Homo sapiens: one gene and its partners. The protein of the gene in region 1 interacts with the protein of each later gene in a pairwise test. Each region holds a gene or a part of one and is shown on either strand. Other genes may lie near its edges.

Region 1 (8,803 bases):
CTTCCCCTTCTGTTGGTCCTTTCAAACCTCTTCCTTGTGTACTCTGAAAACATCATTACCCAATAAACTGCCTGTTACCCAAAACCTGCTCAGATTCCTGCTGCTTTCCCTCCTCAGATGGAACTCAATTCTTTCCCCAAAGCGCCATTTCCCTATCTCCTTTTTCTTAAGAAGAGTTGCTCATTTTCCCGTCTTCTCGCCACACTGGAATCTGAAAATAAAGCTGGGACTCTCGTCATCCAACTGTGCTCTTTCCAAGCCATCGCTCCTGTACCTTTAGGGATTCTGTATCTCACTGTGAGAATCTAAGTTTATTCTAGAGTGACCCTTGCTCCTACACGAAATGGTACCTAGCGAATGTCAATAGTATTTGAGCTGGATAGGGCATATAAGGTTGAGTTAGAGTATAATTTGTACCTTTATGGGTCTGAAATATTTAAGAAATGCTTGCCACTTGGGTCATCTGAGTTTTCTATGTCCCTTCCTCCTCTCTTATCAGCAAATCTAAAACTCTAGGAAGAAAAAGTCAAGAACTCCAAAACTAGTTACTTTTACTCCACTCAGCGTAGCATTTCCATAGATTCCTGCACTTATCACCCAGAACTTTCTGTTCCACCCCTGAATTTGCAACTCAGAACATACTACTCTGACGGAATTCTTCATAATCTGACTACTCCTCACCTTTCTCTCCTCCCACCACACTAACAAGATTTCTAAGCTCTGACTCCATCAATTTCACCCTTTTCACTTATTATCTATAATAAATATGTATTATATTTATATAACATTTATATATTTATGTATTATAATAGTTATATGATTATATATATATATTTTTTCTGGGTCTTTTACAAAAGTGATTTAACTTTTTGAGTCTTTTTTTAAACTAAGTTTATTTTCCTTGTTGCCAAGTTGATATAACTACAGAGCTACTAGCTTTGCATGAATGTAATTAGATTAGGAATATAATTTGTCAATTTGGAAATAGAAATATTATCAAAGTTGGTCATAGTAACATTAATTTTGTGTAATTGACAGGATATTGTAGTGATTGCAGTTAAGGAATATAGAGTATGGGACAAAAAGAAAAGGTAAAAGGTTTTCACCTTCAGAAGGTGTTCTTGGTGATGTCTCTAATCTAGGTTAAATTAGATAGAAAGGATCTCATTTCTCGAAGGTGGTGTCTAGGACAGACCTGGATAGCCATGGAGAAGACATCCCACCTGAAACAGAAGTATTAAAGCAAGGAAGCTGCAAGTGTACATTTGCCTATCTCAGGTTTGTATCTTAATCTCTTATCACTTGGGAATTAGTGGTTTGAACTCTAAATGGTAAGCAGCAATGTGCAATGACAGACTCTAAGATTCCAAGATCGAGGACTAAGGAAAAACAAGCCCCCATTCGTTACTCAATTTTAAAATGAGCCTCTGAGGGGACATTTAACAGTATTTACAGAGAGAAAAAATCTGAATCTGCAGTTATTATAACAAGCTGCACCTGCTAACTGCATTCTAGTCTCCAACAGAAAAAGATGCAATACAGTACATTATCTCTGAGACCTGCTGGAAATGAATATCCAGAGAAAAGCAAGCTTCTAAGGGTGAAGCCTATGCTGAAGAAAGAGAAATATGCATTTTACTGAAGATGGTGCAGTAAAAGGGGCCTGCAAATATATACTGGAAACTTTAGTTGGGGCTAAATTAGAAGGATTTTGAACATATAAACACTACAACTGAATACCAAGGAAAGGTGTGTACATGTTATAAAGATAGTATTGTGTTAGAAAGGAGAACCTAAAGTTATAATAAGCCAGAATAGCAGGATTTTTCTGGTGGCATATGTTTATAGCCCCAGTTAAACGGAATGGACTTGGATCCTCATTTTCTTTTCTAGGAGAGTCAGGTCAGAGTCCTAGATAGGGAATACCTAATAGCTAGTCTCATCTGACAGAAGAATAAGGAGGAAGGAATTTCTCTTGAATAGGCAATTGGTCTTCCCAGAAATTAAGTCAGGAAGCAACTGGCTCTTGGATAGCCCCTGGGTCGCTGCTATGCAGATACTTGGAAAAGGGGTATTCATTCCTACTAGGCAGGGGAAAAGTTTGCATGCCTGCAGTCAGAAGTCAGTTAGACAGACATTCAAAGCCTCAAAGAGAATGCTGGTTATGTAACTCAGAACAAACTCTCCACTCCTAGGCAAGTCTCTGGGAATTTAGAGTTGACATGACAACCTCAGGAGGAAAAACACCTTGTTTAATGCTGTACTACGTGACCTACACCGGTCACTGACCAGAGCAAGGAGAAGCCACCCAGAATCACTGGTTAATGATCAAAATATTAAGCTATGGTCTATTTTAAGCACCTGGAGGAAAACTCAACACAGGAATTGGTTTCTTTCCCAGCTCAGGCCAACTGATAGAACATGCTGGTGGGCCACACGCCAAAAGTAGGCAGAGCCTTCATTCATGGATTTATTTAAGAGCCACCAAACTTTCAGGCTACTCAATATGATTATATAGGAAATCATTTGTCTTTTACATCTATATTCTGAAATAATAATATTTATTAAACACTTTCTACATACCAGGCACTTTGCTAAGCACTTTAATAAATTTCATTTAATCTTCACAGCAATACTAGTCTACCCCCATTTTACAGATTAGGAAACTGGCTCTGAGAAAAATATACAACTGGTTAATGATGAAGCAGGTAAATGCACCAAGGATTACTTGACTCTAGAGACTATGATCTTGACCACTACACTTTATTGCATCTTTTGATTAAAATATGCTTATAATGGGATATGACACCAATTTGCCATTCTGGACAGAAATTATTTCCTCCAAGTTTCTAGGAAATGGGAAGCTCAAGTTTGTTTTGTCAGGTACCAGTAACACAAAAAAACCTAAATTACCTGTTCATATTTTTTTCTATTATCCAAAGTCCCAAACAATAGAAACCCAATGAGAATTGAATCTTAACTTTTTGAATCTTGTTTTAGTTATTAAAAAATGACATAAACTTAATGATTCTTCCCTGAGACAGTGGAAATATCTAGGAGACTTCTAAGTTTCTTGTATTAGAATTCAAAGATCACGATTCTTCTGCTAGATAACCACTACTACGGTCCTTTTGTTTCCACCACAGAATGGAACGCAGTGCATCTTGGAGCAGCTAATAAAACTCTGTAGTGTAACTAGATGAACAATTACAAGTAAGAATACACTCTTAGAGATTTTTTTAAAGTTCGCAGATAATTTTCAAAACAAACATTGCTCATCCCTCTTTCACTGTCTTACCAGAATGTTAGGTATTTTCCTCATTTTTGCTAAGTTCTTTTATTTGAAATATATCAGCATGTTCCTTCAAGACAACCTTTTACTAAGTATTTGTTTGGTGCATATGCACAATACATAGTATATGCACTAAATCAATTTAAAAGATCAGTCACTAATTTTTTCCTAACGGGAAAATAAAGTGTCAACTAAAAACCACCCATATTTGATTTATTCATGCCCACTTTTAAGTTCTAGGTATAAACAACTTAGAAAGAAATCCTTACCTTACTTAGAAATTCATACCGTCTAGTCAAATGCTAAGTAGTCCATAAGAATAAACATTGAATTCAGCTATGAGTTTCTCAGAGAGTAAAGTCCAAGGTACGTTTGATTTGCTACCTATGACAGACCAAGGAAATCACATCATCACCAAGGACTCCCTCCTTCAAACTAAGCCCCACCCAGATCTGAGTCAGTACAGATCTGAAAAGTCCAGGAATTAGAAGATGCAGTTTCAGACAACATATTGAAACAGCTAAGCATTGAGCTGTGGGAGCAGTGGACTCTGGTTTCCATGCTATGGTGTCAGCTTCACCATCAACATGATACAGGCAACCTCCTGAGGTTGGACTGCCTGTGACCTGTCTAGCTTGCTGCAGAGTTGTAAAGAAAATTGTGTAGCTGGTTGCAGTGGGTGCCAATAGTTCTGTGAGAAAGAACCATAACCCTACACAAAGTTCATCTGCACCTACAATTCCCATTACAGTTCTGGTCGCTAGAACACCCAAGCTTAAACTCAACTTCAGAGAAATAAAGACCTCTCTGAATTCCACATGGAAAGTTGGGCAGTGCCCAGCCTCTATGCTGTCATATCATTTAATCTCTCTCTCCCTCAGTGTCACATGCATGGCATGCATGCACATACAACAGATGCTAAGAGTCATGCTTTACTCACTATTGTATCCCAAACAACTACCACTTACTTACTAGCACATAGTAGCTGGTCAATATCTGTTTGCTGAGTGCATGGGAGCAAAAGTTACAAAGTGAACAAAAATTACCTTAGGAGGACAATAAACAGGACCCTTCTGTCTGGAACAAAGGATGCCATCCAAGCCTTGGCACAGCACACAAATCCCCTGATCATATAATCATAGGGCCCTGTCTAGCTTTATAGCCTTTCGGCATTACTCACCACATCAACGTTAACCTCCTGCCACACATGCACACTCAGGGGAGAGGGCAAAGTACATTTGGGGAACTCCCCCTCCTCTTCCCCATCTCTTCCTTGACTTCCTTCTTCTCTAGTCAGAGTCATCCATAGTGAGCCTTCTGCTGCCCACTGGAAACTGGGTTGAAAGCGCCAGGGCTCTTCCTAGAATCCCCAAAGTCACCCACGCCAACGTTTTCTTTTTTGTTTGTTTTTGTTTTTCGTTTTTTTTTTTTTTTTTTTTTTTGAGACAGAGTCTCTTTCTGTCGCCCAGGCTGGAGTGCAGTGGCACGATCTCGGCTAACTGCAAGCTCTGTCTCCCAGGTTCACGCCATTCTCCTGCCTCAGCCTCCCGAGTAGCTGGGACTTTCAACCCAGTTTCCAGTGGGCAGCAGAAGGCTCACTATGGATGACTCTGACTAGAGAAGAAGGAAGTCAAGGAAGAGATGGGGAAGAGGAGGGGGAGTTCCCCAAATGTACCTTGCCCTCTCCCCTGAGTGTGCATGTGTGGCAGGAGGTTAAAGTTGATGTGGTCAGTAATGTCCAAAGGCTATAAAGCTAGACAGGGCCCTATGATTATATGATCAGGGGATTTGTGTGCTGTGCCAAAGGCGCCCGCCACCACGCCTGGCTAATTTTTTTGTATTTTTAGTAGAGATAGGGTTTTGCTGGGGTTCCTGGTTTAGCCAGGATGGTCTCAATCTCCTAACCTCGTGATCCGCCCGCCTCGGCCTCCCAAAGTGCTGGGATTACAGGTGTGAGCCACCGCGCCCGGCCGCCAACTTTTATCATTAATAAGATCTATTATGAAATGAAATCAAAATCAAACTGGGACTTAAAAGATGCAGGCAATCCCTGCTTTCACCTCTGAATCTCCATGGCCATGTAGTTAATGGTACATCACACCACTGTAATATTAGTTTAGGGAAATAGCAGAGCTCCTAAAGCATACACATGAGGAGAGCAGACTCTCACGGAATTTGAAAATAGAAGAATTACATATTTTTTGAAGATTTTTGAAGTTTTAGGAAGAAATGCCGTATGCATACAAACATACCTGTTATGCAGAGATTGTTCAAGCTGAAGGTAAAAATAGAATCACGGTTTTAAATAATATCAATGGCTGAGGAAGGAAAGAACAATTTCTCTGAGATTTATGTCACAGAGAAAGTGGCTATGATATGTATGCCATTATTGAAGACTAGATCAACAGTTTTAGGTTACAAACCTTTCCCTTGCAACATATTCTTCATTTCAGGAAGGGGTACCTGAAAGGAAGTAGGATGAACCATTAGGACCCTATATTAGGGGAACCTGTAGGGCCACTGCTTGCAAGAGCTCAACTGTTAGGCTTTGGGATCTGTTACCATTTCAACACCACTTTTGGTTCTCTTCTGCAAAGTGCCTCCACGATGTCTTCAAGTGACTGGGAGAAGAAACGGCATATGAAATATGGTTAATCCTGATTATATCTATGCACATGTACCTACACTAAGGCTCAGGGGAGAATTTAATGTTGGCATTGAACATTTATTAAGTTGGCAAATGTTCTGAGGAAGTAAAAAGTATAACTGTCATGTAACTTGAGGATGTGAGAGCAGCTACCGGTTGCATCCTCAGATCAAATAGGGCTGAAATTAGTCATCCAACTGGAGTCTTTCAGTTGTCGAAATACTGCAGAAGAAAGTGAATTTAAACTCTAAAGCTGAGAGGTGGACAGACATGGCTAAAATGTAGATCTTAAATTGGTCTGACAGGGAGATAAGGAATTACGGTCCTCATATATTAGGCATTTACTGAATCAGTTCAATCAATATTTATTTCCAGCAAAAAAGTCTCCTAATATTTCAGCTATTAAAAACCTTGAGGTGTTAAACTCACATATTCATTTTCCAAGATGCTAAGTGTGGTGCCTGTCATCATTTGTGCATGTCATGCCTTCCTGGCCCATTGTTGCTGTGAAAGGACATAAAGTAATTTAGGCCTAGGCATTAAAGTGGAATTGGAAGATCAAGAGAGGACTGCACTCATACCTGCTAAATGTTAAGCCACAGAAGGTTCCAACAGACTTGGATAACACCTTAAGTCAGAATCCACTGGACTTCAACATCTCTCAGCTGGGAGTACCCTAATTAACTAACAATTCAGAACAGCTCTGCAATTTAGGATTTCTGTCCAGCCAGTGAATTGCCCCTCAAAACAACTTTTTCAAGAAATCTCCTATTAAAAACCTGAACTTGCCTTAAAGGACACTATTTAGTGTTGCCCTAATTCAGTGTACCTGAATTGCAATTCTTTTTTTCCCAAATATACTCTACTTTCTTTGGCATCTGTGTTGATTTTTTTCTTAGTTAATGTAACAACAGAACTGCCACATCAGTGCAGGGACTTCCTGAGGCCTTCTAGATGCTCTCTGTGATCTATTCTTAGTTCTCTGTTTTCCTGGTATTGCTTCATATTCAGGTCTAGAATAGCATCAACCACCTTCAGTTTTGCAGTGAGTTAGCTTTTAAATTGCTTCAAAGTGCTTTCACAACTCTCTTAATGATCATTCTGGGAAACAGCCAGGGTAAGTGATCCTCCTGCTTCATTTAGGATGAAGAAACAGGTGCTAAGAGTGAACAAATGATACACCTAATGAATAAGTGTCAAAGTTGGGCATTACATTAAACATCTGCCATACTCCTCTCACATCCCCTTGGCTCACCTTTTTGTCCTGGACATTGTTGAGGCAACAGGCTCTACACAGGTGCCCTTACCAGCACTTCATCCCAGCTGTACTATGCGTCTGTCTTGCTTGTTATCCCAGGGATTCTCTGCTTTCTAGTGAGACTCCTAAAACAGAGAAAATAAAAACCCTCCAGTGTTAATTTTAGCCTATGGAGGTCAGGCTGTTCCCCTGTTTTCTCTCTGGTTGACAATCCTGAAGTGTCTTCTATGTGGTTCCTTAAAGCATCCCCACCAAGACTAAGCCCCAGTTACCCACAGGCATAGCCAGCTGAACAGCACACTCTTGGATTAGCTCTCCCTCCTTCCTGTTTTACTCTTCTCAAGGGCCCCTCCCCTGTTCCCTGGATTCACTTCCCAAAATAAAATACTTGCTTTTCTCTTGCAAATTTAAGTTCCTTATAGATGGTGGATATTAGACCTTTGTCAGATTCATAGTTTGCAAATATTTTCTCCTATTCTGCAGGTTGTTTACTCTGTTGATAGTCTCTTTTGCTGTACAGAAGCTCTTAAGTTTAATTAGATCCTGCTTGTCAATTTTTGCTTTTGTTGCAATTGTTTTTGGTGTCTTTGTCATGAAACCTTGCCCATTCCTATGGCAGGATGGCATTGCCTAGGTTGTCTTCCAAGGTTTTTATAGTTTTGGGTTTTACATTTAAGTCTTTAATCCATCTTGAGCTGATTTTTGTATATAATGTAAGGAAGGGATCCATTTTCAAGCTTCTGCATATGGCTAGCCAGTTATCCTAGCACAATATATTGAATAGGGAGTGTTTTCCCCATTGCTTGTTTTTGTCAGCTTTGCTGAAGATCATAGGTGTGTGGCCTTATTTCTGGGCTCTCTATTCTGCTCCACTTGTCTATGTGTCTGTTTTTGTACCAATACCGTGCTGTTTTGGTTACTGTAGCCTTGTAGTATAGTTTGAAGTCAGGTAATGTGATGCCTCCAGCTTTGTTCTTTTTGCTTAGGATTGCCTTGGGTATACAGGCTCTTTTGTGGTTCTACATGAATTTTAAAATAGTTCTTTCTAGTTCTCTGAAGAATGTCACTGGTAGTTTGATAGAAATAGCACTGAATCTGTAAATTGCTTTGGGCAGTATGACCATTTTAATGATATTGATTCTTTCTATCCATGAGCATGAGATGTTTTTCCATTTGTTTGTATTTTTTATTTCTTTGAGCAGTGTTTTGTAATTCTCATTGTAGAGATCTTTCACCTCCCTGATTAGCTGTACTTTTGGATATTTTATTCTTTTTTGGCAGTTGCGAATGGGATTGCCTTCCTGATTTGGCTCTCAGCTTGGCTGTTGTTGGTGTATAGGAATGCCAGTGATTTTTGTACATTGATTTTGTATCTTGAAACTGCTGAAGTTGTTTATCAGCTGAAGGAGCTTTTGGGCTGAGACAATGGGGTTTTCTAGATATAGAATAATGTCATCTGCAAACAGATAGTTTGAGTTCCTCTTTTCCTATTTGGAGGCCCTTTATTTCTTTCTCTTGACTAATTGCTCTGGCTAGGACTTCCAATACTATGTTGAATAGGAGTGGTGAGAGAGGGCATACTTGTCTGGTGCCAGTTTTTAAGAGG
Region 2 (7,818 bases), on another chromosome or scaffold:
TCCTATCTACTTAGGGACATCACCATTAGTGTCTACCTCTCGTGACTCTCCTGATTGCTTTCCTTTCCTCATGATCTCTTTTCTTTTTTTGTTTTTTTTTGAGATGGAGTCTCGCTCTGTCGCCCAGGCTGGAGTGCAGTGGTGCGATCTCAGCTCACTGCAACCTCCGCCTTCCAGGTTCAAGCGATCTCTTGGCTCAGCCTCCTGAGTAGCTGGGATTATAGGTGCGCACCACCACACCCAGCTCATTTTTGTAAATTTATTAGACAGGGTTTCACCATGTTGGCCAGGCTGGTCTCAAACTCCTGACCTCAGGTGACCTGTCCGCCTCAGCCTCCCAAAGTGCTGGGATTACAGGCGTGAGCCACTGTGCCCAGCCTTCTCATGATCTCTTATTGGCTTTGGGAGAAGTAGGAGGTTGACTCCCTCAACTAAGAGCTTCAGTGACCTATTTTTTTCTTTCTGAGCTGGAGTCTCTCTGTGTCGCCCAGGCTGGAGTACAATGGCACGATCTCAGCTCTGTGTCCCTTCTATGAGAAGACAATTAGCCCAGTATTTTGACCCCCAGGTCTTTTTATGATGCTTCCAGCACAACCCCCGAAGCCTCTCTGTCTTCTTGGCTCCATCATGAAGTGTCAGCTGCTGGGGTCACTATGTTGGGTGCCATCCAAATGGATGTGGTCATTTTCATCCCTGCCCTGGCGTTCTAACCCCAGTAATGTGAAGGAAAAAGACCAGCAAAGAGAAGCAGCTCCACAAAACCTGTTTCAGTGGGTTATGTTTTTATTCTACGTTATTGGTAGGACAGGGAACAGGGCCAAGACCTCCACACTCCCCTGGGAAGAACAGTCAGGAGAATTAGATACATCTAAAGTGGGCACAGGACAGAGGCCAGATCTTCCTGGGAGGTGGCTGAAGAGACTTAGGCTTAAGCCACGGGGGCCAGGCCGACCTGGTTGTTTGCCCTGTCGAAGACGGTAAAGTACTGGCGGATGAAGACATCACCCAGGATCCAAAGCTCTCCAGATTCGGTGGGGAGGTTCATGCCCTGGAAGCCACTGATGCAGCTCCCCTCGCTCTGGAGAAAAGGAGAATAAAAGTGGAGCTGGGACACCGATTCAGCCGTGATAGGCGCTGGGTGATAAACATCCAGGGCGCCCTGGTCCAGCTGTAAGGCACGTGCAAGGAGGAGCTTCCTGGCTCAGTGTCCAGGGACTCGGCTGTTCTTGGCCTGGAGTCGGCCTGTAGAAGCCGTCCACTGAACGACTGGTTTCTACGCATTACTGGACATTATCTGGTGTTTCTGGCAGGCACACGAACCCTGACATCAGCATTGGTGCTAAGGGGCTTAGGGAGAATTCAGCTGCTAGGAAGGAGTTTGAAAACCCTGCCGCCATAGCCTTTTCTCATTATTATTCTGATCCGGTCAGAGGCAAACCAGATGAGCTATTAGCCCTCTTGCCTCACTAAGTCACTGGGCTGCGACCTTGTCTGCACATCACCTGGGGAGCTTTGAACCCCCGCAGCCCCATCCCATTGCTCAGGCCTTGCCCTCTCCTAATGTAATCAGAATCAGTGGGGGAGCCCAGGCATCAGTGCTTCTTGTTGAGTAACATGAGTCCACTGGCAAAATTAGTTTTCCACCTGACGTTATGATAACAGAAGGGAAAGAGTTTTCTTGTGGCTCGTATAGCTAAAGATTTGCTACTTGGTAGAGATGGTAGAAGTGTCAGAAGCCCCAGCCTATGGAAATTAGGATTTCCATTTGCCCAACCCTTGGTAGCTCTGATGTGATCAGTCTCACTTGGTTGACCTAACCGCACTCTGAGGGTGGGGAAAGCTGCCATCTCTACTTTTTGGATGAGAAAACTGAGGGTGAGATGAGCTGTAGCTTGCTCAGAATCAATGGGCTAGTAATTCAGACCCAGGACTTGGACCCAGGGGTCCAAATAGAATCCTCTTTTCACTCCATTAACCTTTGCTTCACTTGTTCCCTTAGGGGGCTGTATCCGAGTTCTTATTCCTGCATTTGTTTTTAATATATTCTTTTTCTCTGGAGGCTGTCTAGGGCAGATGTTCGTCTGCCTCTGCCTGCTGGCTTCAGCTCGTGGAAGTGTACTTTCCGTCTGCAGAGGGGAACTCTGTGTCCACATTCTGTGTGAACCCCTCTAGTGGATGGTCCAGAGCCTCCTCACCTGCAGGATGTAGGCACTGGGTGGCACGGGGTACTGGACTCCATTGATGGTGAAGACGATGTCGGGCAGGCTGCTGATGGCTGAGCAGCTGACCACCATCTGGAAAGAGTGAGGGTGAGAAAAGTTAGAAGGGTTTCTGTCCCTTCTGCCTGGCACACCCACTACTTGAGTGTAGAACAGAGCAGTCGGGGCTGGACTCACGTCGCCATCTGAGTTCTCGCTGGCTCCGATGTCGCTCTGGATGTTGGCAATGGGGCTGGTTGGGCCGGTCAGCAGAGAGGTGCCGGTGTCAACAATGGCCTGGCAGCCCTCAGCGCAGGCGATGGCCTCTCCGTTCATGGTGATGCTGAGGGCAAGAAGCAAGTTAAGCTCCCTGAGCTCTCAGGGGTACTTCTCTCCAAGGAGGAACTAGGAGGTGAGCCCAGACATTTCTTCCCCACCCATCCATTGGCCAATGCGTGAAATTTCTGTTCCTCTCGTTCACGCACTCATTCGTCCCGCATTCATTTGCCCAACAAATATTTCCCAAGTGCCTACTCTCTGCCAGGCATGGGAAATGCCAAGTGAAACAAGACAGCCTCACAGTTCCAGGCTGCAGGGAGCTCCCTGCCTAGCTGGCAAGATAAGTTATGTTGGCAGAAGGGCAAGATGATCAGTCAGGCATGAGGCAGGGAACAAAAACAGGGTCCAGGGTGAGAGGTGGTGGAGGGGAGCAGCCAGGGGAACAGACACCCTGGAATGCCAGGCAGGTGAAGAGAGAAGGAGGACATCATCAGGGGATGGTATGCGGGGAGGTACAGAGACCAGAGGGCTGGGGCAGGTGTTGGAGGAACTGGTGAAATTCTAGCATGGCTGGGCAGACATGAGGTGATCCATGTGTCCTGGTTTGCCTGGGCTGGTCCCAGTTTTAGTACTGAAAGTCTCTGTCCTGGGAAATTGTTCATTCTTGGGAAAACCCACACCACTGAGCACGCTAGCAGGCTAGCTGGGGAAGAAGAGCGTGGAAATGAAGCTGCAAGGGAGACCGGGGAGGCCCTGAAGGGGAGGGTGGAATGAAGTGACTTCACACAATTTCTTAGCCATTTTGCCCCACTTCTAGACGGAAAGTGACATGTTTCCTCGAGTGGCAGGAGCGTGTGCTGGTTCACCGGCCCCTTAAATTGTCAGATGCGTGGACAGGTGGGTCCCCCAGCTCTCCCCAGGGATGCTGGTGGATGGTCCTGCCTCCGTGACTAGGAGGACAGTGGCTATCTCACCCTTGCAGAGTCTTGGCTTCCTAGACAGCTCTTCCCTCCTCCTGCAGGGAGGTGTCTTTCTAGGGGTCTCTGGCTTGGCCAACTTCCACCTTCCCCCTGGAGTGTGTTCCCCTGTGCCAGCTGTTCCTGGGGGGATTCTGGAAAGCTGATTGGCTATGAATCCATAAGGAAATGGGATCTGGGGCCCAGGCCTGGATGCTGCCCGTTCATGGCAGTCTCACCTGTCCACGGTGATCTGCCAGTAACCCTCGACGGTAACAGGCACCCAGTTCAGACTTCCAGTGTAGTAAGAAGAGTCAATGCCACCAAAGATCACCACGCTGCCACTCTGGTCATCGCTGTGGAAAGTGAGGGGAGAAGACATGAATTTTTTTGTTCGTCCATTTGTGTGACCATCTGCTGTTGCCTCCTCAGGGCTACCCTTGATTGGGCACTTTCTAGGGCTGTCCTGCGGTGTGACTAATGTGGTTTCTTTTCCTCTTAGGCCAGTGCCTATGCAGTGGGCACTGTCACTGTTATTTCCACTTACCATGAGGACACTGAGCCTGAGGGAGGTGAGGCCACCTGCCCAAGGTCATACAGCGGGGGAGTGGTGGAACTACGTTTGGAAGAACACAGGCCTTTTAGGTTGAGTCTGTGGTTTCCATGGTGGTACCCACTCTGGTTGCCATGGGGACCCCAGGGAAGTGAATGCATGACAGTGTCCGCTCTTAAGGACTTGAGGGTGGAGGTCACTGGTTCTTAGCTGGGAGCAGTTTTGCCCCCAGGGGAATGTCTGGAGACATTTTGGATTGTCATGATTGGGTGGGGGTAGGGGATGCTGCCGGCATCTCATGGGTAGAGGCTGGGGATGCTGCCAAACATCCTACAATGCACGGGACAGTCCCTGGCGGCAAGCTCTTATGTTGGTCTGAAATGTTAATAGTGCCCAGATTGAGAAACTCGGATCTGGCTGGGGAGATGCAATGGCCCCACATGAAATATTTAAGTGCTCATAAAGGCAGATGATGTTTCAGAGCCACCTTGAACATTAACTGGCCAAGAAGAATACATGACAAAGAGCCTTCCTGTGGTAAATTGCAGGAGTCCTTGTTATTGCAATATTCATGTTCTAAATTTCTGCAGTTTCAGGTTAGATGAGGAAGCAAATGTAGACAGCAAGAAGAAATTAGTCATCCAGGGCCGGGCACGGTGGCTCACGCCTGTAATCCCAGCACTTTGGGAGGCTGAGGCAGTCAGGTGATCGAGACCATCCTGGCTATCACCATGAAACCCAGTCTTGAATTCCTGACTTCAGGTGATCCTGCTGCCTCAGACTCCCAAAGTGCTGGGATTACAGGCATGAGCCACCACACCTGGCCAAGTGTATTCACTTTAAATGGCATCTTTGCGGGCCAAGGATGAGGGAAGTGGTACTGAGGGGGAAATGGCTGATGACATTTGAGTTGTGCACATCAAGGGGACAAAGATGCTGGTAAAATAAGATGGAGTGCACATGGCCCGTCAGAGACAGACTTGGCACTATTACTCTCCAAAGACACACTTCTCCAGCCTCAGACATTGACTTTCAAATCCCTTGCTTCCCAAGACCCTCTCCATCGCACCCAGCCTTGGACAGCTCCTGCTGGGCAGGAACACTGTGACCTCTGGAGGGGGAGGTGGGAGGAGGCCCCTCTCCACTCAACTTACGCGCTGAGGTAGACAGAGAAGAGGTCCTGAGAAACCAGGCCCTGGTTCCAGATGTTGTCAAAGACGGGTGTGGCCCCGGAGGAGGAAATGCTGGGGTAGGCCAGCCCCAGGATGCCATCGAAGGGAGCATAATACAGGAAGGAGCCAGGTTCCGTCTCGCTCAGGCCGAAGATCTGATTGGTGTCAGAGATGCCTCCAACCTGGGTGGGGAAACCGAGATGATGTTCACCATCGGGTCATGTTCACTGAGCTCTGGATGCCAGCCTCAGGCCCAGAGCCACCCTGGTTCATCTCATGCAGGACTTGGCTTCCAGGGTATCAGCCCGGGAGGAGGGCAGAGGGACTGTCTGCTGGAATGCTGGTTCCTCTGCTGGAGGTAACCATGGCAGCTGATCTCCAGATGGCTACAGTCTATGACTCAGGGTGAGATTTTGCTGGAGAACAGATGGTCACTGTGTGTTTGTGTTTCTGATGAACAAACGCAAAGCAGACCCCAGACCCCAGGCCTTTGACCCCTGCCATGCCCCGAAAGTGGCAGGGAGGGCTTGTGGAGATTTCGTGACTTGGGGTGCTGCATGTCGGGAGAAGAAGGAAGAGGAGGAGGTGCTAGTAGAGAAGTGAGCCTTTACTGACTCTCCCCACACTCCATAACATTCTGCTTGGGTGGAGCTGAGTCTGGGTTATGGCTCCTGGCACCCCACCCTTTTACTCACTGCCACCCGAGCTAGCAATGTCTGTGACATCTCTGCTGCTTCTCCCCCACCCCGCACCCCCAATCAGGTTACTTCTGTGATCACCAAGACTCATCTTGCTGGAATAAGCTTATTTTGGGGGTGCCTGATGGGGGGATGCAGCGGCAGCCTGCAGGTGCCCACCTGGACAGTGTCGTATCCGAGGATGCCTGTCATGCTGCCGGTGCCGTAGGTGATGGAGACTGTCTCGCTGGTGGACTGGTAGGTGGAAGAATCCTCAGGGTTGAAGCGGTTGTGGTTGGCTGCAAGGACAAGCGGTGAGTGTTATTCTCTGAGAGCTGGGTGAAGGTCATGGGCTGGATGTCTTCCTGGGATGGGGTGCCCTGGCCCTGGGACGGGCTCTGGAGGTGAGCAGCGACCTTTCGCCCTAGACCCTTGGAGCCCAAGAGACCCCAGGTTCTGTCCTGTCTCGTTGAACTACTGGGACCATTCACTGGTGGCAGTTTCCCCAGCCAACCCCAAGGGCCTCCTGGAGACCTCCCCAGACCAACATAGAGCGGAGCAGGCCCGTGGCTACCCAGTGACGAGCGCTTTCACCCTCTAGCCCCCAGCCAGTGCTCCCGTTATGATGTGGATGATGCCACAGGCACCTCATCTTCATTAAAACTCCAGTGAAAACACTAGAAGAGGAAGGAACCTGCAACACACATTGTTCATGACTTCCAAAGACAAACTCTCTTTCATTAGCAAACCAATGATTCTTTTTTTTTTTTTAAATGAGCTCAGCACTGACCTCTAGCCTGTCCTAGCCAGGCTTTGAAGCCATTTTCTCACACTGGACTCTTTCCTGGTGGGCTATTCTACAGCCCTTTGGCCCTGTCTTGCTTTGGGCCCCCCATACTTCCTCTCCCAGCCTGTGGTTATTGAGGAGAGCTTCTCTCTGCCCTCAGACTGTGTAGTCTTTGACCGCAGGGATCATATCACTCATCCCTTTACCCCCTGGAGCACCTGAGCCCAGTGCTTGGCACGTAGTAGGTGCTCAATAAATGCCTGTTGAGTGGCTCCAGCAGGCTTGAGGTGGGAACTGTTTGAAGCCCGTGGGTGTCCAGGGTTCCCCAGGGTCGGCTGGTGCTGGGGAGTGAGAGTGGGGTAGGGCGGTCTGGGCACTTACTGCAGGCAAGACTGGAGCAGTAGACTGAGGGCACCCACAGGTTGGAGGAGCCGGTGTCAAAGACGACGGTGAAATCCTGGGCAGGAGTTCCGATGCCGATAGTGCCGAAGTACTCCATCTGTCCAGGCGAGGACAGGGCAGTTCACGGAACGGGGTCTCTCTGTCAGGGCCTCCCTAGGGGCTGTCTCTGGGTCATCTCCTCAGTCTGCCTCTCCATCTTTTCCTTCATTCCTCACAGTTCTTATCTTTCTCTTCCCAGCCACTGTCTTCATCCTTCAAATCCCAGCCCTGGCGTCCCTTCCTCCTTGAAGTCTTCCCTGATTGCTCCCCCAATTTACCCTCTGCTCTCTGTTAAGCACCACAAGCACCTAACAATCTGCTGTTCCCTCTTTAGCCATTGTCTTGTCTGTCACAGTCTTCCCATCCGTACAGCGCATGTTCTCAGAGGATGGCGGTGGAACCTTCTAGCACCGGGCAAGTTACAGCTTAAGTGCTTGTGCCTTAAATTGTTTATCAGAAGCTAAGCAAGCCACTTAAAGATGGAAACCTGTCCAGTTTTCTTATTTCTACATCTAGATGTGTATAGCAGGTTGCAAGAAAGGGCATTGACAGTATTTTTATTCTTTTTTTTTGAGACAAGTCTCACTCTGTTGTCCAGGCGGGAGTGCAGTGGCGCGACCTCGGCTCACTGCAGCCTCCTCCTCCTGGGTTCCAGTGATTCTCCTGCCTCAACCTCCCAAGTAGCTGAGATTACAGGTGTGTGCCATCATGCCCGGCAAATTTTTGTATTTTTAGTAGAGACGGGGTTTCACCAT
Region 3 (7,970 bases), on another chromosome or scaffold:
CAGTAAGCAGAATTTCTATTCATATATAAGAGAGGGTATATAACACAACTGGTAAATCACTGCAAATGTGCCACAATTAGACACCTGCCAAGATAAAAGGGTTATATATATATTAGATGTAGATTGCCTTTCTTAAGGATGTTGTCCATTTCAGTATAAAAGATATGATGCTTACAATTTCTTTTACTGGTATTTAGGAAAAGGAAATATTTGAAATATAAATTCGTGTGCCCCAAACTAATACAACTCAATTCATTTAAATTCACAGATGAATCATATATTGACCAAGTGACCAAACGTAAAGAAATTAAAGTTTAGATTTTTCCTTTTGCCCTAGAGGTTGAACTCTCTTCCAAAGCTGCTTTTGGTGCATTTAATGGGCACCAAAAAATAGCAGTTGAAGAGTAAACATCATTCCTCCCCTAGTTCTTAGTTGTGGCTATAATTTATTATTAGCATATTAGCAGGTTAAGGGGAGCAATTTTGATTCCCATCAGGTATAACAAAATAATCTGGTGAAAAACGGAGGTCATGTTTGTCAAGTCAGAAAAGTGGGGCCTTTTCTTTTTAATGTTAAAACTTCAAATTTTACACGTAATAGCCTATTCTCTCAGCAAAAGCAAATAGCAAGTTACCTGTTTTTTGATGAGAGCCTAATTACATCCTGTTTCATTCTATTTAGGTAGATGAAAATGCTTGAATAGGCGAGTTTTATGTTAACCTTCAATTTATGGATTTAATATATTCTTAGTTGAACCAGATAAAACGCACAATGTCAATGAAATTACTTCAGCTTACAACCATTTATAAAGTATCACTGTTTTCATGTAAATCTGTGATAATGTAGCTATAAAATAATACATTTATAAAAATCAATACATAAAAATACAAATTTCTGTATAAATCTTGTAGTATTAAGGCTCTGTCAATTAAAATCTATAAAATCTATAAATCTTGTAGTATTAAAGCTCTGTCAATTAAAATCTATAAAGGATGTTTTTTATCCTTGATAAGTCATCTGAAGAAAAGTCAGAGAAAAAATTATTTTTTTCTAGAAAGAAGAACATTAAAGGGGATTTAATCTCAACCAGAGAGGCATGAAGTACAATTACTTTTATAAAACAATTTTAAAATAATTGAAATAGTGTCTTTTTGGAACAGAGATAAACAGGTCAAGTGAATGGAACAGAACAGAAATTCCAGAGATAAAGCCAAATCTACATAAGAACATAGGCATTGTGTGTCATGGGGAAATTACAAATGGGTTTTTAAAAATACATGACAACAGTGAAATCACTGGAAGAGAAAATCTACTAAATATCTAACCTGGAGGTGGAAAAATACTTCTCAAGTATACAAGGAGAGTGATAGAAAAATACATAGACTATATAGGCATTAGTCTAAAATTCTAAAATTCAAAAAGCACCCTACACTAACAAAATTAAAAGCAAATAATGTACAATAAATACATTTCTTTTTACATTAGAAATGGTTAATATCCTTAAAACGTGAAGGGGTCTTACAAGTCAAGATAGGCCAACTCGAATGGTCAAAAGACAATTTACATAAAAAGGCAAAAGAAAAAAAAACCACTTGTGAAAAAAATCCAATCTCAATAATAAAGGCATATTAAAATAAGATACCTTTTCAAACTCTTAAAATTGAAACTTAAAAAAATTAACAATTGGTGCCATGGAACTTCTGAGAAAAATATAAAATTGGTAAAAAAATTTTTAAAATCCATTTTTAAAAACATGCACATCCTTTAATTAATCATTTCCACTTTAAAAAAAAGAAGTCTATCTTAAAGACATAGACATGGACTGTTCAAACATTTCTAAGATAGTCTATTGTGCTAAGTATGCAAATTGGAACTAGTCTGGGTCCAGCAATAGGCAACCCATTAAACAGGTTATAAATCATGACATTTTAAAAACCAGACTAGGCAGGCATAAACAATTTTTTATAAAGAATATTTAATAATAAGGGGAAATATTCACCACGTAAGTGAAGAGATATGCTATAAATACTAGCATTCTAAATATTTAATGCCAAAAAATGTGTCTTAAGTCATCTGGAATAGAAACTAAAATATCATCAATGTTTACACTGGGTAGTGAGATGGACTGGAACTTGGTCTCTTTGCGCTTTTCTATAATTTTCCAAATTTTTACAACATATACTATTTTAAGAAAAAGTTATAAAACTACTATATATTAAAATTATTTAAAATATAGCACACCTGTATCTTTGACAATTAACTCCATTTCTTGAAATTTACCCTAATGACATAATAATAGGGAAACTTTAAAGGTGAGCCCATAACTGCTGATGAACCATAAAAATGCTATTGAAGAATATTAATGCTAGGAAAAACAATTTCAGAATGTTAAAAAACAAAACATAAAAGTATAAAAAATGTTACATATGATGTGATTCTAATTTCATGACAATATATGTGTGATAAACATTTACATATAAAACCAGGAAGGAGGCAAAGTAAAAACAAAAATTGTTAGTTGTGTTTACCTGGTAGTTTGATTACTTTGCTCTATGTTACAGATTTTTTTTTAATGAAAATGTATTGCTTTTATAATTACAAATTATAGTTCCAAAAAGTTCTGTAAAGTTTACATACTTGGTTGCTCCATCATCGTATGTTCCCATTAAAACTATTGTTCCATCTTGTATGGCCTTCAGAAACTCAATAAATGGTGCCACATCTGAAGAAAAAGAAAGGGTTTAGGGTTTTAAAAAATGACTGAATAAGCATCACGATAATCTCTGAAAGTAGTATTATAAAACATGAAGTATCTGTAAAGCAATAATTTCCAATGTAAAGTAATCCAAAAGACAGACAAATCTCATAAAGAGTTTAAAAACTGTTAAATTTGTCCCTTAACATAATCCCACTATCAACTTACAATTTCCCATTCCTGATTTATCCTGTGTCTTTCGTATTGATATTCCTGGGGCTAAGTGAAAAAAATCATAGCAAAGTAAAGCATGACTTACGAAGTAAGAAATTCAGAGATCTCTCAGATTTGAATAATTGGGATCCTGAAAACCTTATTCTGGGGTCCATGCATAAGCTTAAGGAGGCATGGGAGGTGTGTGGACTCCTTAAGTGTATGTAAAATTGTATGGGCTGAGCACAGTGACTCACATCTGTAATCCCAGCACCTTGGGAGGTCAGGGCTGGGGGATGGCTTGAGCCCAGGAGCTTGAAACCAGCCTGGGCAATATAGTGAGACCTCATCTCAACAAAAAAATTTAAAAATTAGCCGAGCTTGGTGGCACATGCCTGTAGTCCTAGCTACTCAGGAAGTTGAGGCAGGAGAACTGCTTTGAGGCCAGGAGGTGGAGGTTGCGGTGAGCTGAGATCACACCACTGCACTCTAGCCTGGTTGACACAGCAAGACCCTGTCTCAAAAACAAAACAAAAAAACAAAAACGAAACGAAAAAAAGCATAACAATGTTTGTATGGGTACTTTACTAGAAAGAGGATACACAGCTTTTCTCCGATTCTCAAAGATATCTGTAATTTTTAGAAAATCTAAAAATACATATACACACAGATTTAAAGGCTATTTTAGGTATATCATTTGCTATAAACTGGGAGAAGGAATATGTTAGGTGATCACTAAAAGCCAAACTAATTGTAGCAAATATTACAGTCATTACTCATTTGATCTACCAAATCAAAATCCACAAGGACTTCAAAATAAACCACTTCAATGACTATAAACTGTTGATGCCAGATACATAGGTCAGATTCTAAAAACCACTTGACATCTTGAACTCTTTACAATGTCTGGGTTCCTTATAGCTCTGAAGTCTAATTCTACTCCAAAACTGGGTTACTTCAAATGTACTCAGTTTCTTTCCACAGCAAAGATGCCAAAGATTTTCGATAACTGATTATATTTCATAATAATAGCATTTTCAATTCAAAAAGATATAACAAGGCAGCTAACAAACTACTTCCATTTAAATGCAAAAGTGGCAATAAACTGCAACAATTTCCTAACTAGAAGAATGCTGCTAGCGGTAATTAATCTACCTGTGACAAGAGAAGTAAGGAATACCAGAGCTCCTGGTCACATGACTGATTTCAACAACAGCTTTGTAAGACTCTTTCTATCAATAAATTTTGGCAGGACCAATTTATGCCTTTAGAATCTAAAATTGATGGTCCCATTTTAAGTTTATACAGCTTTGACAGCTATGCAATGTTGTCCTAACATTATTTAATAACAAAATAATACACGGCATCTTTTGTTTTTTTGAGACGGAGTCTGGCTCTGTCGCCCAGGCTGGAGTGCAGTGGCAAGATCTCGGCTCACCGCAACTTCTGCCTCCCCGGTTCAAGGGATTCTCCTGCTTCGGCCTCCCAAGGAGTAGCTGGAACTAAAGGTGCATGCCACCATGCCCGGCTAATTTTTGTATTTTTAGTAGAGACGGGGTTTCGCTGTGTTAGCCAGGATGGTCTCCATCTCCTGACGTCGTGATCTGCCTGCCTCGGCCTCCCGAAGTGCTGGGATTACAGGCGTGAGCCACCACGTCCGGCTACATACCATCTTATTACAAGCTGAAGATATGTTGGAAAAGCTAAATTATCTGAGAACTCTTAACATGAATTTCAGGAAGCCTAATAGCTGTTGGCTTCTAGGGAATATATAAATGGAATGGGGAGGTGCAGGGGAGATCCTCATACTGATCAATCTCCCAAATTAAAGAATCAAAAGATAAACCAGTGTTGGCCTCCCTTCAAACTGGAGGAAAAAAACCCATTCTTCCGGGCAGCGTTCTTCTTTGGGGTGCCAGTCCCTTGCCTCTGCGTGCTGGTAACTTCTTCCCACTCCTTGTGGGACTTCCAAATATGGAAGGGGAAAATATCTGTGGATTGCTTTACAAGAAAGAAAATTCTATTTCTTCCCTCAAATATTCATCTACCTAAAAAATTAGCTGCAAGTCAGAGGGTAGAACTGTGATGAATAATAGGACTGCTGTTCTAAAACTGATAGTTTATCTTGTCTTTCTAATGCTCCTAATGCTCCTAATGATTTATTTTTGAGACTAAAAAATCACATTTAAAAAAAAATCAATTCCTATCACTTAGGAATGCTTACATTGGTTATTCTGGTCTTCAAATTACTTTTTTTTTTTAAATTTTAGACACACTTAAAGGAGCCCAAAACTTTTGAATTGGTTGTCCTGTAGAAAACAAGATGACTTTTTTTAAAAAAATCTCAATTTTGATATTACTATCTTCAATTATACACCACAAAAATTTTTTTCTAAGAAGAAGAAAGTATATAAAACATGAATGATAACTTAAATACAGCTGGACATTTAGTGAACAGAAAGTAAGGGAAACAAAATGAACTAACGCAAATAGCATCATCATTCTCTCATTAATGGGCTACATTGTATTGAGGTGATTAAGTCAGTGCCAGCAAAAGAACACAGTCATGTTATTTATGCTTACCTCCTCCCCACATGTCAAAATATTTAGTGTCTAATACTTCTCCTGTTTTTCCTAAAAGAGATTAAATTCATATCAAATTATGCATCTGAAATATATCATACACTGTAAGACCAATAATCTCATCCAATGATTGATGTGAATTCATTAGCAGAGAAGATGTGAATTCATTAGCATTAGAGAGATGTGAATTCATCTCAAAGAATTACTTTGAGAACTTAAAATCTGAATCATATGCACCTGAAATATATTTTTAAAGGGTAATTTCTTAATAGAACTTTCTCATTAATCTTTTAAGCCGAAGGATAAATAGAAGTTCATTACTGACTGTAGACCATTCCAATTCGGTTAGATATATTTCATCGTTGTTTCCATATTCTCTTATTTTAAAATTACTCAAAAGTAAACCTTTTACAAAAAAGAAGTATCTCCTTGAATCAGATGCCATTTTCTACATTAAATCAGTTTTTACAATAAAACTTACATTAACTTGCCCTATAAAATGTATTTTTTGCTATTAATGAAATAGACAGATGTTGAACCTTTTACCTAAGGAAATGAAGAAAGCAGAAGAACAAAAATTTACCTCTTGCTGTGAAAGTAGTAAAATATATTTTTCTACACTATGAAACTACAGTGGTTTCTAACCATCCTATATATCTTATAACCATCCTACATAGCTTTATGGAATACTTATTGTACCAGAACAGAGAGGATCAATATGCAGTTAGGCCTCACTTTATGGTTTTATGTTTTCAGATTTGATTTTGAAGGAAAATTTGAGATGTTCAGGATTCAATCAACTTATTCATACTAATTAAGCTATCAGAAGAATGTGGCTGATAATGAAAAATTACAATACATTCTTATTCTTTGTTCCTCCCCCTACACCATCCTTTGTCATTTCATACGCCTTTAATCCTGTCAACCTATCTTCCTATTATGTTAGGATTCCAAAATTTGAAGCAAGATTTTATCAATGTGATGTTAGACTGCTTGGTTTCTGACAATCTCATGGAAGCTCTTGCATAGCAAGTTAGGATACTTTCAAGAAACACGCTATAAATTCTTAGACACCAAGTCTCCACCCATAGATTTTTTGCAGGGCAGGGATGGGACAGAGGGCTTTATCATCAAGAGCAGTACTTTCTAACCTGATCCTCTGATAGTGCATTTTACTTTGGGACAGAAAAATACCCAATGATTACATCCATAAGCTAAAATAATTGTTCTTACCATTTGCCAAGGCAACATTGATCCCTCTTCCAACATTATTCTTAACACCACTCATTAAACTGAAGGGGGAGAAATTGAAATAAATTTAGAATTAAATATTGTACAATAACATATCAGAAAAATAAAGTCTTGCAAAAAAAGTTAGGAATATTATACATATTTTCAATTGTTCAGTGCTGCGGAGGAAATTAAAAAGATCTCTACTAAGTCAGAGAAGACAGTCTAATACTGAATAATTTTAAAGCAATGTCCTTAAATAATATTTCACAAATAGAAATACATATTAAAAAATATTAGGCCTGAAATAATAGACCATTTTTGTGCTACACTGCTTCAGATTATTCTTAAAACATGGACATTAAGCATATGTTCTGCATCATTCTTAAGGTATCAAACAAAAGATAATCTCTTTTCTGCTCTCTTCAATACCAGCGTGACATGAAACAGAAGCGAGATACTACCCCCATCATTTAAATCTAAAAGCAAACAGAGTGGGGGAGCACTCTTTCATGAATGTTTTACCTAATTGTGAACATTCTCCTAGTGATTATCACTGTAAAGTTCGTCTACACTAAGAAATATTGCACTCATGAAATCACTGCATTGAATGACAGTCACTTACGTGGTGACTACCTGAAATAATCGACTTCCATGGGCAGCTCACAGACCACTATATAAAGACAATGACACTGTAAAATGGAAGGTACCAGTGACAAATTTGCTGGTTATCAGTTCAGTTTGTTCAATTGCTCAAATTAGAATTATTAAACTAAAATTGTGAGTTCTTTTAACTCAAAACTTCAAGGTAATAGTAATACTCCCAGTGGTGTGCTGTTAACTATTTAACAACTGCTCTGTGTTTAGGAGAGAGAGGCAATATGCACATATGTGACTACACGTGCACACACTTGTCCTTATATAGACAGAATTATATATACACATAGGTACACAATTTATTATAAACTACTAAAAGATGTATAGCACACAATTTCATAAATAAAATCTACGATGTACTTTATTATAAATCTCAGTCGATTCTCACAGAGTATTTTAGTTGATTTTTCAAACAATTCACATCTGCAGCTGAACTATGGTTGCAATTGATGAATGAGCTCAGTTCTAACAAACGTTGGATCTATGTTAATAAGATAAAATAAAGAAAAACAAATAATGGAGATTCATGTTCAAATTCCACTTGCCTGTCAATGATGACTGAATCAGATAATAAGTTTTAAATATTGGAAG
Region 4 (7,970 bases), on another chromosome or scaffold:
GCCCTGCTGTGGGCTGCTATTGAGACAGATGTGAGTAGACACCCCTCCCCACAGCTTCTTTTCCACACTGCTTGTCTGGGAGGGACACTCTCTGATCCCAGGCCCAAGGTAGCATTTTGAGAGTTTAATGCTGGGCTGCATTCCCCTCCCAGCCTGAGTTTGGGCTGATGAGGCTGTAGCTGCCTCTTGGCTAAGGAAGGATAGGGAAATCAGGCCATCCTACACATATCTAGGACAAGACCCCCTGCCCTGCCATGGGCTGCTGTGAGACCGAGATGTGGCCATCCTGTGTGTTCCACAGCTTGTTGCCAATGCTGCTTACTTGTGAGGTGCTCCTCCCTCTCTGGTCTCAGGCTCCAGGTGCTATTTTGAGAGTTTAATGTTGGGCAGCACCCCTCCCTGGAACTGAGATTGGGCTGGTGCAGCTGTAGCTGCCACCCAGCCAAGGATTAACAGGGAAATCAGGCTGTCCTATGCACATCTAGGTCAATACCCACTGCTCTGCAACATGCTGCTGTTGAGACTGAAATGTGAGCAGACTGCCTTCCCTACAGCTTCTTGCCCATGCTGCCTGCCTGGAGGGACCCCTGCCCTCCTGGTCACAGGCCCAAGGTGCCATTTTGAGAGTTTAATGCTGGGCTGTGCCCCACCTTCTTGCTGAGTTCAACTTGATGTGGCTGAAGCTGCTGCCCAGTCAAGGAGAAACAAGGAATCTATGCTCTCCCGCACATACCTAGGACAATACCCAGTGCCTGCTACGGGTTGCTGTGAGACCGAGACTCAAGTAGACCACCCTCCCTACAGCTTCTTGACCATGCTGCTCACCTGATAGGGGCCCCACCTTCTCTGTTCACAAGCCCACAGCTGGCACCATTTTGAGAGTTTAATGCTGATTCATAACCAGTCTGAATTAACAATCAGGCAATGTGGCTGCAGCTGCCACCCTGGTAGGAAAGGGACAGGGAAGACCAAGCTCTCCTAAGCACACTTAGAACAGTGCCCACCACCCTGCTACAGGTGGCTGTGAGACTGGGGAGTAGCTCACCCAACCCATCACAGCTTCCAGCAACACCAACATGGACTGCTTGGATCCCAGTTGGCTGCTTCAACAGTGCTACTGCCATCACTCACATGACACCACCTGCTCAGGGGCTAGAGATCATGCCCACACACTGGGCTCACCACTCCCACTACTAGCTTCTAAGCAAGCCATGTGGAGGCCCAAGAATCAGCCCTCCAAGACCCACTAACCACCAGAGCAGCGTAAGCTGCTGTGGGGCCTAAAAAGGGCACACTTACCCCACTGTTGCCACCACTGGGGTCCAAAGGCTGCTCAGTTGGCATCCAAGTCCCAGCTAAACTTCTGGGGACTTAGTCTCAGCTAATTACCATACTCTATCCCACTGAGGAAATCACAGAGAACACTGACCCTATGCCGAAGAAGTCATAGAAAGATCACACGACTGCAGGCATCCAAAATCAAAGTCAAAGCATCTTAACAACATGCATATATCCTCAGGAAAAAATTCTCCCTTATAAAAGCAATTTCAAAAAATTGGAACAAGCAACTGCTACACCAGACGCAAAGAAATCAATGGAAGGATACAGGAAACATGTAAAAGCAGAGAAACATGACACCATTGTATTAGTCCATTTTCACACTGCTGATAAAGACATACCTGAGACTGGGAAGAAAAAGAGGTTTAATTGGACTTACAGTTCCACATGGCTAGGGAGGCCTCAGAATCCTGGCAGGAGGTGAAACACACTTCTTATATGGTGGTGGCAAGAGAAAATGAGGAGGAAGCAAAAGCAGAAACCCTGATGAACCCATCGGTTCTCATGAGACTTATTCACTATCACGAGAATAGCATGGGAAAGACCAGCCCCCATGATTCAGTTACCTCCCCTGGCGTCCCCTCTCACAACATGTGGGAATTATGGGAGCTACAATTCAAGTTGAGATTTGGGTGGGGACACAGTCAAACCGTAACAATCATCAAAGAACCACAACAGCTGTCCAGCAGCAGCAGATCCCAATCAAAGAGAATTCTTCAAAATGCTAGATAAAGAATTCAAAATATTGATTTTAAAGAAGCTCAATGAAGTGCAAGAGAAATCTGAAAACTAATACAAAGAAATCAGAAAATTAATCCAGGATATAAATGAGAAATTTATCAAGGAGATAGACATCTTAAATAAAAACAAGCAGAAATTCTGGAACTAAAAAATTCATTGAAGGAAATACACCATATGCTCAAAAACTTCAACAGTAGACTACACCAAGCAGAAGAAAGAATCTCAGAACTCGAAGACAGGACTTTTGAAATAATCCAGTCAGACAAAAATGAGGAAAAAAGGATAAAAAAGAATGAATAAAGCCTTTGAGATGTCTGGGACTGCAAGAAGCAACTGAACTTATGAATTATTGGTATTTCTGAGGGGGAAGAGAGATTAGAAAGTTTAGAAAACATATTTAAAGAAATAGACATCCAGATACAGGAGGCCCAGTGATCCCCAGGAAAATACATTGCAAAAGGACCTCACCATGGCATATTCAAAATGTCTGAAGTCAAGTGAAAGAAAGAATTTTAAAATTAGCAAAAGTGACTAGTCACCTATAAAGGAAATCCCAAATCTCATCAGACCAATTGAGGACTTTTCAGCAGAATTCTTACATGCCAGAAAACAATGGGATGGCATTTTCAAAGTGCTAAAGGGAAAAAAAAAAACAGTGTGTCTGTCAGCCAAGAATTTTGTATCCTGCCAGAATAAGCTTTATAAAAGGAGAAATAAAGTCCTTCCCATACAAGCAAATGCTGAGGGAATTTGTCACCACTAGACTGGTACTACAGGAAATGCTCAAAAGGATCTTAAACACTGAAATGAATGGTGTTTTTAATTAATTATTTTTGATAGAGGGTCTTGCTTTGTCACTCAACCTGGAATACAGTAGTGCAATCACAGTTCATTGCAGCCTTGACCTCGTGGGCTCAAGCAATCTTCCTGCCTCAGCCTTTTGAGTAGCTAGAAATACAGACATGTGCCACCATGCCCGGTTAATTTTTAATTTTTTTGTAGAGACAAGATCTTGCTATTTTGCCCCGGTTGGTCTTGACCACCTTCCATCAATTAATGCCCCTGCCTGGCATCAATTAATCCCCCTGCCTAGCATCCCAAAGCACTGGGATTAAAGGCATGAGCCACGATGCCCAGCCAAAAGGTTGATATTCACCATCACAAAAACATACAGAAGTATAAAACTCATAGTTTGTATAAAACAATCATACAAAGGAAGAGAAAGGAATCAAATGGCAACATGACAGAGTTTCATCAAAACACAAAGTCAAAAAGGCAAAGACAAAGAGTCTATAAAACAACCTGAAAACAATAAACAATATAACAGAAACAAAGTCTCACAGATCCATATTAACCTTGAATGTAAATGGATTAAATGCTCCACTTAAAAGATACAGATTGGCAGAGTGGATGAAAAAACATGATCCATGCTGCTTACAAGAAACTAACCTTACCCATAAAGACATATAGACTGAAAACAAAGGGGTGGAAAAAGATATTCCATGTAATTATAAACCAAAAGCAAGCAGGCATAGCTATACTTATATCTGATAAAACAGATGACTTTAAATTAAAAATAGTAAGAAAAAAGATAAGGTCATTGTATAATGATGTAGGGATAAATTCAGCAAGACGATATAATAGTCCTAAATATATATGTACCCAACATTGAAGCACCCAGATTAACAAAACAAATATCACTAAAGAAAGAGGTAGACAGCAATACAATAACTGTAGGGGACTTTTAACACTCCACTCACAACACTAGACAGATCATTGGGACAGAAAATTAACAAAGAAACATTGTACTTAAATTGAACTTTAGACCAAATGGACTTATAAAACATTCTACCCAACAACTACAGAATATACATTATTTTTGTCAGCACATGGAACATTCTCCAAGATAGATCACATGTAAGGCCACAAAAGAAGTTTTAACAAACTTTTTAAAAATTGAAATTATATCAAGTATCTTCTCAGACCACAGTGGAATAAAACTAGAAATCAATACCAAGAGGAACTTTGGAAACTATACAGATAATGGAAATTAAACAGCATGCTCCTGAACAACTACTGGGTCAATGAAGAAATTAAGACAAATTAAAAACATCTTTGAAATGAATGCAAAAACACATTGTACTAAATCCTGCAGGTTACAGCAAAAGAAGTGCTAAGAGGGAAGTTTATAGCATTAAATGCCTACATCAAAAAAGTAGAAAGATCACAAATTAACAACCTAACATTGCACCTCAAGGAATTAGAAAAGGAACAAACCAAATCCAAAGTTAGCAGAAAAGAAAAAATAAAGATCAGAGCAGAACTAAATGAAACAGGGACAAAAAATTTACAAAGGATCAATGAAACTAAAAGTTCATATATTAGTTCTTGGGATCAATGAAAGTAAAAGCTGATTATTTGAAAAGATAGACAAAATTGATAAACCACTAGCTAGATTAACCAAGAAGAAAGAAGATCCAAATAAACACAATCAGAAATGAAAAAGACATTACAACTGATACCATAGAAATGCAAAAGATCATCAAGGACTATTATGAACAACTGCATGCTCACAAACTAGAAAAACTAGAGGAAATAGATACATCCCTGGAAACACAAAATCCCCCAAGATTGAACCAGGAAGAAATAGAACTTCTAAACAGACCAATAATGAGTAGTGAGATTGAATCAATAATAAAAAACTCCCAAGAAAGCTTAAGACTAGATGTATTCACAGCCAAATTCTACCAAACATACAAAGAAAAACTAATACCAATAATCCTGAAACTATTAAAAAATCAAGGAGAAAGGAATTCTCCCTAACTGATTCTCCGAGGCCAGGGTCACCCTGATACTAAAAACCAGACAAGGACACAGCAGAAAATGAAAACACAGACCAATATCCCTGTGAACGTAGATGCAAAAATCCTCAACAAAATACTAGTAAATCAAATCCAATGGCACATCAAAAAGATAATACACTATGATCAGATGGGATTTATTGCAGGGATGCAAGGATGGTTCAACATATGCAAATCAATAAATATGATACCCCAGGTTGCTGGATTGCGTGGTTTTTCAGTTCTTTGAGAAATCTCCATACTGTTTTCCCTAAAAGTTGTATTAATTTACATTCCCACCAACAATGTATAAGCATTCCCTTTTCTCCACATCCTTGACGACATCTGCTGTTTTTAGAGTTTTTAGACTTTTTTTTTTTTTTTTTTTTGTGGAGATGGAGTCTTGCTGTGTTGCCCAGGCTGGAGTGCAGTGGCATGATCTCAGCTCACTGCAACCTCTGCCTCCCAGGTTCAAGCAATTCTTCTGCCTCAGCCTCCCGAGTAGCTAGGACTACAGGTGCGTGACACCATGCCCAGCTAATTTTTGTATTTTTAGTAGAGACAGGGTTTCACCATGTTGGCCAGGATGGTCTCGATCTCCTGATCTCGTGATCTGCCCACCTTGGCCTCTGAAGGTGCTGAGATTACAGGCATGAGCCACCATGCCCTGCCTAGACTTTTTAATAATGGTCATTCTGACTGGTGTAAGATAGTATCTCATTGTGGTTTTAATTTGCATTTATCTGGTGATTAGTGATGTTGAGCATTTTTCATATGTTTCTTGGCCACTTGTATGTCTTCCTTTGGAAAATGTCTGTTTATGTCCTTTACCCACTTTTTAATGGGATTGTTTTTTCTTGTTGAGTTGTTTGTGTTCTTGTAGATTCTGGATATTAGTCCTTGGTCAGATGCATAGTTTGGCAGCCCCTTCCCCATCGGGCACCACCAGCAGCAGTTGCTATCATGGCCTTGAGGACTGCCGCATGGAACTTACATGTTTTAATTTTGCTGCTGTTAAACATTACACACTTTGCAAATTTTGCGGAGTAGAATATTAAAAGAAAAAACAGGTAAGCCATTAGGTTCCTAGGGCCTTTCTTTTAATTAATGATTTCAGAAAGCCAAAGGGGACCAGGGAGGGAAGAACTTGCTTTGATGAGACTCTTTGATCAGTGGAAGGTGTCTGAGAAGGAATCTAACTTTAGTGAGAACTTATTAATAATTAAAAACAGACCTCAAAATCTCTTGAGAATTTACTATATGCCAGGCCCTGTGCTAAGCACTTAACAGGTATTGTCTTATTAATTTCTTACAACCATGTAGGGTAGAGTTACTGTTTTCATCTTCATTTTCCAGAGAAGAAGACAGGCCTAGTAAGGGTCAGTAACTTGCCCAAGTTCACACAGCCAGTGAATGATGGAGCCTGTCAGGCTGCATTGTTAATCACCATGAGGATCTACCTCTAACTGGGGGCCTGGCCCTTTACGTGCATTAACTCATTTAATCTTCACAACACCCTTGTGTGGATGTTATTATCACTGTTCCCATTTGACGTAGTGAAGACAGTGTGGAATACTGGTTCTGAGCATGGACCTTGAAGCTATGGCTTCTGGGTTCAAGACTCTGCTCTTCCATTCACCAGCTGTGTGACCTTAGTTACTTAACATCCTTCTGCCTAGATTTTTCATCTGTAAAATGGCTTTAATTATATAACTTATTTTGTAGATGTTATGGAAATTAAATGAAGTAATTTGTGCATGGCATTTAGAACATGACCTGGTAAGTATTATTTAAATTATTACTACGATAGAGAGAAAACTGAGGCTCAGAGAAGTTAAGCCCAGGCTACCAGCCTGACAGTGGTGAGATTCTAGGAAGACAAATAGTGCCAGGGTTCATTCCCAGAGATGAACTCTAGGAAGCTGGTCTCATTTATGTTTGGTTGTGATGACTCCAGGATGCAGCTGCCTGTTGAGAGGTAGCACAGTGTGGTGGTAAGGAGCATGGGTTTTAGAGCCAGATGACCTGGGAGCATGTCGTCGTTCTGTCACTCACTAGTCATATGACCTTGGGCAAGTTACATAGCCAGCCTGAGCCTCACATCCTCATCTGTAATGCATCAGTTGTCACGTTCCTCATGGGCTGTTGTGAGACTGAAGGAAGTTCACTCACATATAGAGGGCTTGGGGCCTGACACAAACTGGGTCAATGTGTCTGCTCTGGTCATGATGCTGAAGCAATAGCTCAGTGGGAGAAACGGGAATTGACGGAGAGTCAGGTAGACATGGTTGGGTGTGTCGCCTGAATGGAGAGAGGAGAACTGGGAAGAAAATGTTAGCAGAATAAAGCCGGGGCAACAGAGCTTGCCAGGGCATAGAACAAGGGCGCAGGTTTACTTGTCAGAGGCCACCAGTCCTGGCTAAAATATTTCTGGTGGAACACATTGAAGATCAGTGTGCTCATGGTTTAGGTGTGGCTGTCACAAAAATAAAAAGGGAAGAAGAAAGGGAAATGTGTCATATTTCCTTTGGTAGAAACATGAGTCCAGGTTCTAATTCTTTTCAAAACAGGGCTACTGCAGTGTTTTTCAACAGTGTGTAGGTGGTGGCAGCTCCTGGATTTCACCAGTGTTTTCTGTGGACAGCCATCCCAACCACCAAGTTTTTAATGAATGCTGTGATGTTTTGATTTACTTAATTATTCCATGTAAATAAAACAGCTTTATCAGACAAAATAGGACTATACCATGAGATTATAACATAAAGTCAGAAGCATGAGTCCAGGCACCCAGATGACAAGCCATTGAGATAGCTGTTTAAATGGTTCCATTAATATTAACTTGCTATTTGTGCAATTGTTTTGTTGACTATTAGCTCTCACTAGCAGATAATCCAAGTGGGAACAAAGATTACAAAAAGTTTAGAGGGAGAAGAAAATCCTTAAAAATGAGAAAATGTCTACAAATGAGCCATCTTAATTTGTTTGTTTGTTTGAGACAGTCTTGCTCTGTCACCCAGGGTGGAATGCAGTGGCACCATCTTGGCTCACTGC

Evidence for each region.
Region 2: the proteins of HHLA2 (region 1) and PGA4 interact in binary tests that used the Homo sapiens proteins (3 or more experiments, as listed by UniProt).
Region 3: the proteins of HHLA2 (region 1) and FAM3C interact in binary tests that used the Homo sapiens proteins (3 or more experiments, as listed by UniProt).
Region 4: the proteins of HHLA2 (region 1) and TMEM140 interact in binary tests that used the Homo sapiens proteins (3 or more experiments, as listed by UniProt).

Annotation. Positions count from the first base shown.
Region 1 is NC_000003.12:108,291,358-108,300,160, reverse strand, and holds the start of HHLA2 (HERV-H LTR-associating protein 2 isoform a precursor), read right to left. Parts: upstream 3,614-8,803; 5' UTR 3,562-3,613; exon of another isoform or gene 1,107-3,561; intron 1-1,106. UniProt on the Homo sapiens protein: Through interaction with TMIGD2, costimulates T-cells in the context of TCR-mediated activation. Enhances T-cell proliferation and cytokine production via an AKT-dependent signaling cascade.
Region 2 is NC_000011.10:61,224,642-61,232,459, reverse strand, and holds the end of PGA4 (pepsin A-4 preproprotein), read right to left. Parts: intron 7,122-7,818; coding exon 7,004-7,121; intron 6,135-7,003; coding exon 6,016-6,134; intron 5,341-6,015; coding exon 5,141-5,340; intron 3,790-5,140; coding exon 3,673-3,789; intron 2,542-3,672; coding exon 2,397-2,541; intron 2,295-2,396; coding exon 2,196-2,294; intron 1,079-2,195; coding exon 929-1,078; 3' UTR 766-928; downstream 1-765. UniProt on the Homo sapiens protein: Shows particularly broad specificity; although bonds involving phenylalanine and leucine are preferred, many others are also cleaved to some extent.
Region 3 is NC_000007.14:121,357,405-121,365,374, forward strand, and holds part of FAM3C (protein FAM3C precursor), read right to left. Parts: intron 6,785-7,970; coding exon 6,726-6,784; intron 5,544-6,725; coding exon 5,493-5,543; intron 2,724-5,492; coding exon 2,639-2,723; intron 1-2,638. UniProt on the Homo sapiens protein: May be involved in retinal laminar formation. Promotes epithelial to mesenchymal transition.
Region 4 is NC_000007.14:135,150,795-135,158,764, reverse strand, and holds part of TMEM140 (transmembrane protein 140), read right to left. Parts: intron 1-7,970.